Linked DNA regions of Homo sapiens: region 1 is linked to region 2. Evidence: fine-mapped expression QTL. A gene starts in region 2. The other region holds a variant in brackets. All regions are shown on one strand. Distances are from middle to middle.

Evidence for each region. PIP is the estimated chance that this variant, and not a neighbour inherited with it, causes the effect.
Region 1: its variant is fine-mapped to the expression of ZNF275 in pancreas (GTEx, PIP above 0.99).

Annotation. Positions count from the first base shown.
Region 1 is chrX:153,379,062-153,384,430 of GRCh38, forward strand. No RefSeq gene overlaps it. Among named protein-coding and RNA genes, the nearest start is that of PNMA6E, 20 kb to the right of the region's middle. The variant C/T (reference allele first, on the strand shown) is at 2,743.
Region 2 is chrX:153,332,068-153,337,436 of GRCh38, forward strand. It overlaps ZNF275 (zinc finger protein 275), which reads left to right and starts at 2,086. Exons shown (of 4, transcript NM_001367757.1): 1 at 2,086-2,218; 2 at 4,567-4,643. The coding sequence starts at 4,613. It overlaps MIR12129 (microRNA 12129), which reads left to right and starts at 3,395; the gene lies at 3,395-3,470. RefSeq lists silencers at 1,880-2,249, 2,340-2,419.

The DNA.
Region 1 (5,369 bases), 47 kb after region 2:
GTTGTCACCTAACTGGGAAGTTACTTTTTAATGTCTAGACCACTGCCTCCACAAGGGCAGGAAGGCTGGCGGATCTTGGCTCACTGCTGTACCCCAGCACCCAGCATAGTGCCTGCCCTGGCACACAGTGGGGACTCAGTGAATGGGGGTGGGGGATGGGTGCATTCGCTTTCATCCTCTGCCTGTAGGTCCTCAGTTGCGGTTTCATGGAGCGGCCACGTTGAAGGCAGGGGAACAAGGGGTGGCGGGAAGTGCTGAAGGGGCGGTTGAGGGGCAGTCCTGGAGTCTGCATGGTGAAGAAAGGAGGCCTGGAAGAGGTTGGGGCCAAGGTAGGCGGGGACAAGGGCTGTTGCTCTCTCCCATCAAGGTCACGGGGATGTAGAGGAAGGAAGAAGAGGCTTCCATTGAGAAAGGGTGCTTGGGAGTGGGAGGTCGGTGGGCAGGTCCAGGGTGCACCCATGAGAGTGCGGGAGCAAGGGGGATAAACAACAGCAGGGACACTCCAGACAAGCATGACTAGATGGGGCAGGCCTAAAGGGGAGGAGTGCAGTGCCAGACGTGACATCGCAGGGCAGAGGGGGTGCGGCCCCTTCGCCTTCCCACTGTGGCACATGGGGCCATGGCCTTGGATGCATGCCAGCCTTGCCCAAGGCAGGAGGTGGAGGAGAAGGCAGACGCAAGGGCCAAGGGCAGGGGCACAGTGGGAGGCCTGGGGGAGGAGGAGAGCCCAGGCAAGAATGCAGGGCCGGGAGGGAGTAGTGGGGAGAAGACTGCTGAGTGCCCACCTCCAAGGGCCGGGAGGTAAGGTGGAGGGATCACTGGGGTCACCTGGATGCCGAGAGTGGGGTGTAGAGGGAGTTTTCCATCTCCTTGGCCAAACTCTGAGTTCTATGTCTGTGCCCTGAGCTCCTAACCCGGGGCCAGCCCAAGTGGGTGCTCCACGCATGGTTGTGTCATCAACACCTACTGCACAGAGGCAGAGGCTAAGGGCTGGGGTGCCTCGAGAACCCTCATGAAGCTCGTGGCCTCAAGAGAGAAAGAGATGGGCATCATGCCAGGAAAGAAGTGGGGCCTGAAGCAATCTTGCTGGTGACAGGAGCTCTGAGGATAGCAGGGATCTGTCACAAATCTTGCTGGTGACAGGAGCTCTGAGATAGCAGGGATCTGTCACAAGCTCTAACACGTCAGAGCCACTCGTGACACTCACCAATGTGAGCCTCTGTTTCCTAACATGTCCAACCATTTCCATCCTGCCTGCTGCACGAGGCCGTGGCCCATGTGCCCCTCTTCTGTAGAACGCTCTCTTGCCTCGCTCAGGTTTCAGATTCAGGGTCACCTACTCAGAGCCCCTTCCTGGAGCCCAGCTGCCAGTCATCTTTGTCCTGCTGGGTCACTTCACAGTACTTCTCCCAGTCCGTTCTTTTTTGATGGCCACCTCCATGCGTCCCCTGGGCTCTCTGGAGCCACATCCACCCAGCTTACCAGTGTGTCCCAGGACCCAGCCCCCGAGGAATCAGCAAAGGGAATGGCTTGTAAGGAGGAAATGAAGTGAGGTGAGGAAAAGCGCCCAGCACTGCATCTGCTACAAAGCGCTTCTGGCATTTCCTTGAACCATGAGATGCAAACAGATTGTAAGTTTAGGAAAGAGGAAAGTTGGTAACCAAAGCAGTGGAGCTGAGAGGGTTTCCTGGCAGGCGGGCTGTAATCCCTGGCCCGCATGGCCACGGAAGCTGCCTGCAGCCCTTCCTGGGCAGCCGTGCACAGACTGGCGGCCCCAGCCTAAGTCACAGGACTCTGAGTTAGAGCATGTTTCTGTTGGCCGAGCTGTCACCCAGGATAGCTGTCCTTGTCAGCACTGGCCATCCTCCCAGTTCTCAATCTCGAGGCCTCGGGGCTCTGCAATAGAAGCCACCAAAGCAGGTGGAAAAGAGGTCAGCTGACCTTCAAGGGGCCACTGAGGGCGGCCTTCAGGCCAGAGGGTGAGACAGAGGTGGCCTGTGAGGGCACCAGGCACCCAATGGGGATGTGCGCTGGGCTATTTGAATCTTTTGACAAAATCTGTCACCTAGCTCCTCTGGGCATCAGCAGAAGGTGAGGGTGACCTCCCCAGGTGATCTCGGCCTCCTTTCTGGCTGGATACTGGTGACGTGAATACAATGCAGCTGGGCCCCCCAGAGACCCATCACCTGCCATTGTCTGGGAGGTGGACTTAAAACTGACTTTCAAGGCCTCAGACAGGCACCAAAGGCCTTTTCTCCTGGGAAGCAACAGTGGGGTTGGAGGAGTCCCAGGGGAGACGGTTCAGCTATTCACCTTCATGAAGACCTCACCCCACAGGCTGGAGGGCCCCAGTTCCTACTTCTCTCCTTCAGCCCAAGCCAGAGGCCTTGGGGACTCAGACCCACAGACCGCATAATGGCCCCAAGCCCAAGCTTACTGAAATAGAGGAGGCCCTGCTGCCTCTCTCTGATTTCAGGGGGCCAGAGAAGAGAGGTGTGAGAGCTAGGGGGTCACCAACAGTTGATCTTGGGCTGAGAAATTAGGAAAAAGATCAAATCCTAAATGACAAGATTTTCTTCTAGAACTACCATTCGCCTTTCTTGGTCCACAGTGAGCTCAGATGGACTAGGAGCATCGCAGGGCTTGTTTATATAGGGAAATGCTCCTGGCGTGGATTTGTGGACTGAGCTAAACTCCTGAAGCCAGGGCAGGTGGAAAGGCTCCTGTCATGTGCACGTTTGT[C/T]TACCAGTGGCGCCATGTGCCTGGCTGGCTCTGGCTGGCCAGTTACATATGTTGAACTACCAGGGGCTCTGTGTCTTTTAAGGACATGATTCCAGATTCCACTGGAGTCAAACCTATTTCGTGGTGCAGAGTCGCTGGGCAACTAGCAATCTGCATGTGGTTTTCATCGCAAATCTCATCTCCCATGTCAGATGAGTAGTCTGCTGTTGCCGTGGTGAATCAGTATTATACTGTGACCTTGATTCTGGGCAGAAATGTACGTTGCCTTGACCATGATTACACAAAATACGTTGTCTAGGAAACAGCACAGTTCCGAGAACAGGAAGGGCTAGATAATTCTTGGCTTTGCTTGGAAGCCACACAGTGTTACCTTGTACCCAGCGGGGTCTCAGCTTTCCTTGGAGGCCCCTCTGCTGTCTCTGTGTGTGACACAGACAGAGAGGCAGGACAGAGCCAGGGACAGACAGAAAGGGGGAAACATCAGAAAGTCACAGGCTAGGGTGAGCCTCTGCAGCTGCTGTGTGAGAGCTGCTGGGGAGGGGGCCAGGCTTCTGGCCTCTTGCCCAGTCTCTGTCACCCAATGCAGTTCCAGGACTGGGGAGGTGTGGCACTGTGGGAGGGCATCACCCACCTCTGGGAAATGTTGGTTGCCTGGCTCCATCTATGGGAAGCTCTGCAAATACATGCACCACAAACCCCCCAAATTCCCCACACACAAACACACACACCATACACCCCACACACACCACACATGAACACACAAACACACCACACATGAACACACACACCACACAGACCACACACAGCACACACCACGTACATCCCACACATGAACACATGCCACACACCTCACATGAACACACACTACACACATCACACATGAACACACACCACATATGAACACACACACATCACACACACCACACATGAACACACACCATACACCACATACCACATGGACCACACACATGAACACACACCCCACACACCCCACATAAATACACCACACATGAACACACACACAGCACACATGAACACATACACACTACATACACTCCCCACATGAACACACACACCCCCCATATGAACACACATACCATATACCTCACATACCCCACATGAACACACCCTCCACATAGTCCCATATGAACACACACACCCTACACATGAACACGCACACACCACACATGAACACACACCCTGCACACCACACATGAACACATACACCCCACATGCCACACATGAACACACACCACACACAGTTCCCTGCATGAACACACACACCACACACACCTCACTTGAACACACACACCACATACACCACACACGAAAACACACCCCACACAACCCACACCACACATGAACACAAATACACCACACACAAACACACACATCACATAGACCACACACACACCCCCACACACCACACATGAAGACACACACCCTACACATGAACACACATATCACACAACCTCCACACATGAACACACACACCCCACATGAACACATACACTACACACACCCCACATGCATCCCCACATGAAAACACACAACACACATGGAAAACACTCCACACAGCCAACACACACCACACATGAACACAAACACACCACATGTGAACACACATCACACCCCACACACACCACACAGACCACACACACCCTACACACACTACACATGAACACACACAGACACACCCTACTCATGAACACACACATTACACAACCCCACACATGAAAACTCACACGCCCCACAGCCTGCACCCCCTATACAGCCCACACCACACACACACCACACACCCCACATACACCACACACACCCCACATGAACACACAAACCACACATGAACACACACACCACACATGAATACACACACCACACATGAACACACAGATCACACACACACCACACATGAACACACACCACACACCCCACATGAACACACACACACGATATATGAACAAACACACCACAACCACACCCACACATGAACACATGCACCACACATGAACACAGCACACACATGAACACACACCACACACCACACAGACCCCCCACGTGAATACACACACACCAGACACACCACACACACACACACAGGCACACATGCACCCCATGCCAGGGGCAGACTGACACGAGAGTAGCATCTGGAGCCTGGAGTCCATTTCTCTCCCCTTATAAGGCATTCACTCCCTCAACGCTCTCCCAGCATGATGGCGGAAGTGAGAGACCGAACCCAGAGGAGAAGGCTGTCAAGGCGAGGTCTGCGCCCTGGCAGAGGCTGCCCACAGGGGGAAAGGTGGTGCTGTACCTGGTTGACTTCCAGTCCAATGTCTTGCTCATCCCCCCGCTCACCATGGGTTCTTCCATGCCAGCAGCCCAGGCTGAACCCCTCAGCGTCATCCAGAAACCCCCACCCCACCAGGCACCTCGCTCATTACTCATGAACTCCTGCTATCTGGGCCCCTCAGCAGCCCCCAACCCATCCACCACTCCTCTCCACACTGCCTGCCACCTCCTCAGACCAGGCCCGTAGCCCCACTCACTCGCACGCAGGAGGAGCACAGCAAATACTCCTTGAATCAATAACTGAGAAGCAGAGAGAGACCACCATGAGCCAACTAGCA
Region 2 (5,369 bases):
CTTATCAAGTTGTTTAGCTGAAACATGACAAATTCACAGTTTATTGTCTGTCAAATATATCTCAGTGTAAACAGACAACCTACAGAATGGGAGAAAATCACCTGACAAAGGTCTAATATCCAGAATATAACCCCATCAAAAAATGGGCAAAAGACGTGAACAGACACTTCTCAAAAGAAGACATACAAGTGGCCAAAAAACATATGAAAAAAATGCTCTCATCACTAATCATCAGAGAAATGCAAATCAAAACCACAATGGGACACTATCTCACTCCAGTGAGAATGGCCATTATTTAAAAGTCAAAAAATAAGAGATGCTGGAGAGACTGTGGAGAAAAGGGGATACTTATACACTGCTGATGGGAATGTAAATTATTTCAGCCACTGTGGAAAGCAGTTTGGAGATTTCTCAAACAACTTATAACAGAGCTACCATTTGACCCAGCAATCCCAGTACTGGGTATATACTCAAAGGAAAATAAATCATTCTACCACCAAGACACATGCACCTGTATGGTCATCACAGCACTATTCACAATAGCAAAGACGTGGAATCAACCTAGGTGATCATCAGTGGTGGATTGGATAAAGAAAATGTGGTAGGCATTCACCACAGAATGCTATGCAGCCATAAAAAAAGAATGAAATCATGTCCTTTGCAGCAACATGGATGCAGCTAGAGGCTGTTATCCTAAGTGAATTAATGCAGGAACATAAAACCAAATGCCACACATTCTCATTTATAAGTGGGAGCTAAACATCGGGTACTCGTGCGCATAAAGATGGGAACAACAAACAATGGGAACTACAAGAGGGGTCAGGGAAGGAGGGGTCAAGGGTTTAAAAACTAACTATTGTGTACTATGTTCAGTACTTGGATGACAGGGTCATTCGTACCCCAAACCTCAACATCACACACTATACCCAGGCAACAAACCTGCACATGTACCCCCTAAATCTAAAATGAAAGTTGAAAACATAAAATTTCTCAGGAACTACATGTGTGTGTATATATATATACATACATACACACACACATATATACACACACATTGCACATAATGGGCTAGCTTTCTCTTTTGTCTCTCTCTCTATATATACACACACACATATATATACATATATATATACTGCACATAACATTGGGCAAACTACTTGAACAGACACTTTACAAAGAAAGATATAGAAATGGCCAGTGAGCACATAAAAGCATACTCAACATAATTAGTCATCAGGGAGATGATAATTGAAATAACAATGAGATGCCACTTCCCACCCTTTCAAATGGCTAAAAATAAAGGCTGACAACCTCAAATGTTGATGAGGATGGGAAAGAAAAGGAGCTCGCATACATTTCTGGTGGGAATGTAAATTGCACAACCACTTTGGAATACATTCTGGCAGTTTCTTATAAAACATAAAACTATCCTGTGATGTGGCAATTCATCTCTTAGGTATTTGCCCAAGAAAAATGAAAGCATATGTCCACACAAAGATGTGTACATGAATATTCATAGTAGCTTTATTTATAATCGCCCAAACTGGAAACAGCCCAGATCATAACCTGGTGAATGAACAAACCAACTCTGATATATCCAAACAATAGCATACTACTCAGCGATAGCACATTCAACAACATAGATAAATCTTGAAAACATCACGTTGAATGAAAGAATCCAGACACACAATAGTACATACGATCTGATTCCATTCATACAGAATACTGGCTTTCCAGTCTTCGCCCTCAGTTCCCGACCCTTCACTCCCCCCACCACCATCTTGAAGATGCCCAAGGGGGAGAGGTCCCTTCCATTCCTTCGTTCCTTCCTTCGTCTGCTGGTCGATTTGTTCGCTCGTTCATTCATTCATTCGCACGCTCATTCCACTCCTCCCCACCTCCACCCAAGCGTCCAGCCCGCGCGCGCCGCTCCCCCGCAGGCTGATCAGACTTGCCTGCCCAGTCCGCCCCCGCCCAAACCCCGCCCCCTTCCCGCCACGCCCCCTTCCCGGGCCAATCGGGGACGAGACTGGGGCCGGGGCGGGGCCTCGCTCCCTCAGAACCCCCGGCGGCGCTCACGGCTCCGGAAACGCGCCGCGGGGCTGTTAGCTCGGCTGGGCACGGGCGGCTCCGTGGCGCTTCCTGCCACGCCAGGCCTGCCTGGGCCGCGCCAGCGCCGCTCCACCGAGGGCCGCGCGTCGGCCGCCGCCGGGCCTGGGTGAGTGTGCGGGCCGCGGGAGGATGTGCGGGGGGCGCTGGAGGGGCCGCAGGGCGGAGGTGATCGTGGGGGCGGCAGGAGGACGTGTGGACCTGAGTGAGCGTGCAGGGCCGCGAGAGGATGTGCAGGGGGTGCAGGACTGTGTGCGGGGCTGGAGCGAGTGTGCGGGCCGCAGAAGAGTGCACGGTGGAGGGAGGGGGCGTCTCTGGGCAGTTGGAGAGCTGCTCGGCCTTGGGCGGGCCAGAGCAGGGAACGGGTCCCGGATGACGAGTACGAAGAGGCCCGAAGGCCTTCCCGAGGCGGGCGGGGGGCGGCGATCCCGGGTGGGAATCGCTAAAGTGTAGAGGCCTGCTCTGCTCTTTGGGGGACGCTAGGAGATGGGAACCGCTCAGGGGCGGAGAGAAAGGACCCCTGCCCCTAGCTCCTAGGAGCCCGATCTGGAGGGGGCATTGTAGGGGTGGGGGTTAAAGGACTTTTCCCTGGTCTAGGGGAGGGACTGAGCCGCAGTCTGGGAGCTGGGAGGGTGGGCCAGGTGGGAACAGTTCCCGCTGGGGAGTCCCTCCTTTCCTTTTGAGTGGGTGGGAGTGGGGGGGGGCGGTTAAGCCTCAGCTTGGTGGGGAGAATGGGGGCCGGTAGGTAGCCTAGAGAGAGAGCTGTGGAGAGGCAGGGGAAAGGGGGCGGTGAGCCGAGCTCAAGGCCCTCTGTCTGAACCAGTCTTTTTCTGTCGCCCTACTGGGGGCCGCCATCTCCCACTTCAGTGCCCCCGCCCCCTTAAACTCCTTTGCTGGCTCCTCCAGTCTATATTTGGGTGATTAATTATATATCTTTTCCACACACACCCCCCACTCGCCTGCCGCCCAAAGTCCATGGTCCCTTTCAAACAACCCCCTGCCCCCATTCCTGGCCCACTTCCCAGAGGTCCCACCCTGCCACCTTGTTCCAACTGAAGCCCTCCAGCCAGCCTTGACCTAGCTGGGCATGCGGCCCCCTCCAGTCTCCTTAGTCAATGAAACATTTCCTCTTCAACCTCAGCCCGACATTTTTCCTTTACAAGAGAATTTCAGATGGGATTGCTGGAACAGCACCTCCCCTAGGTACTAATGCTGCCTCAGCCCCTCCCCACCCTCACCTTCCCCCAACCCTGCAACATTGGACCTTCAAGTAGAAGCCACTTGCACAGTATCTGGCCCAGTTCAGTACATCCCCACAAAATGTTACTAGGGGGATGTACTGAACTGGGTCAGACACTGAGTTTTATATATAGAACCCTATTGAGCAGTAATTTGCAGCCTTCTGTCTGTGAGGGACCCCTTGGAAATCTACCAGAACTTGTGAATTCTCTTCTAACCATCAGCACAGACTCAGAGATAGTGGGCTCCCATTTCAGCAGGTTCCTGGGCAGGAATCCTGTCAGTAACAGAGATTCTGAGAGTTGGAGAATCTGGGAACCTCCAGATTCTAGACAGGCCCAGTGTTAAGGAGGTGCAGCTCTGCATCATAATCTCCTGGGGTGCTTGTTGAAAAATGCAGACTCCTTGGTCTCTCCCAAACCTGCGAAACTCCCACATGAGTTCTTAGTGAACTCCACACCAACTTTCTCACCCAGTGATCCAGCCCTTACCCAAACCTGCCTGGGCTCCTTGGATGGCCCTGGGCTCTTTGCAATTTGCATAGCATCCCACCCCACCCCCAATTTCGACCTTTGTATCCAGGCGATGTTACCTAAAGGAAGCTATACTTAAAATTTATTTCGATTTTTAGTAAGATGCCATGAATCTTCTTGGAGAAATGGGAACACAAAGCTTTCCTCAATTAAGTACAACAAACACTACAAAATCCCCTTCTGGTCTACCTTCTGGCTTTTTATAGAAAGGAAATAAGATAGAAACCCAAACAGAAAGAGACAGGTGCCCAGGCAAAGTGAGAGGAAACAGATGCCTTCCCACCCACACATACAGAAAAAGGCACACACAGACACAAATACCCCAAGAGAGACAGACTTTCCTGGTGAGACACCCTCTCTTTAGGCCCTTCAGGATTCTGCTACTTCGAGTAGCAGCCTGTTTGCTGCTTTGGGACGGGACGGGATGGGCCCACGTGGGGCCTTCACTTCCGCCTCCTGGCCTGTCAGGTGGAAAGAACATGAAGGCCAGGCTCAGCGTGGCCCAGGGCTTGGCTCAAGGGTTGCATCCTGGCCTGGCTAGGGTGGATCCAGATCGTGGCAGTATATATTCAGTTGAACCCTGTATCTGGCCCAGTTCAGTACATCCCCCAAAATGTGGGGGACATGTTCCTGGGAGGTGCACACAGGTCTGCTTCTGTTCACCTGAATTATTGCAATCCAACAGATGGGGCCTTACCTGCCAGGCTGATCCCTTGGAGTAGTTCTGAGGCATGATGAGTCATCCGTGTGTGTCTCTTTTGGGTAAGTCTGGGTGTTTATGCATGGTGTCTGCTGGCTTTGACGCTGGGCATGCTATCAGAAGACCCTATAGGTGGGGTTACAACATGGTGAGGAGTATCGTTTTGGTTCCGGAAGCACTTATATTTTCATCTGTGCCACTGTTGCTGAACTGTCTTTGCCCAGAGACAGTTCTCTCAATCCAAGCAATACAACTCACAGGAGAAAAGATATTCAGGAAAGAGAATCTGGAGTCTAATCTCCCTTTTGGATGGGAGAGGGAGCTGAAGGCATCCATCTGAATTGGATCTTTTGTGAGTGGAAACCTTTGAAGACACCCGTTGCTCTGGCCTAGAACTGAGCAGAACACAAGCCACCTGTTGTCTTCTGGGTAAACTCAAGCTTTAGGGCCTGAGGACATTCTGCTCCAGGTCTTTATTTAGATGCTTCAGAGAGTCCAGGTGTTTCTGGCACCCCTTGGAAGCTTCTGGAACCTTCCAGAGGAGCCTTATTTGGGTGGTCTTGCTGCCTTTCCCCTGCCCAGGGAAGGACAGCGCACCTGTTAGAGAATGTTGCTTGGCTATTTGTGCGATAAAATCAGTTGAACGCTGGTCTTTAGGCTCAGAAGCTACCGTTAGCCAGTAGCCAAACATCCAGCAGTGAGGCAGGGATGTTCTTAATCCAAAGGCAACCAGAAAACATCTCATTATTACTACATTTTGTGACGTGGGTTGTTTTTTGTCTCTGTTG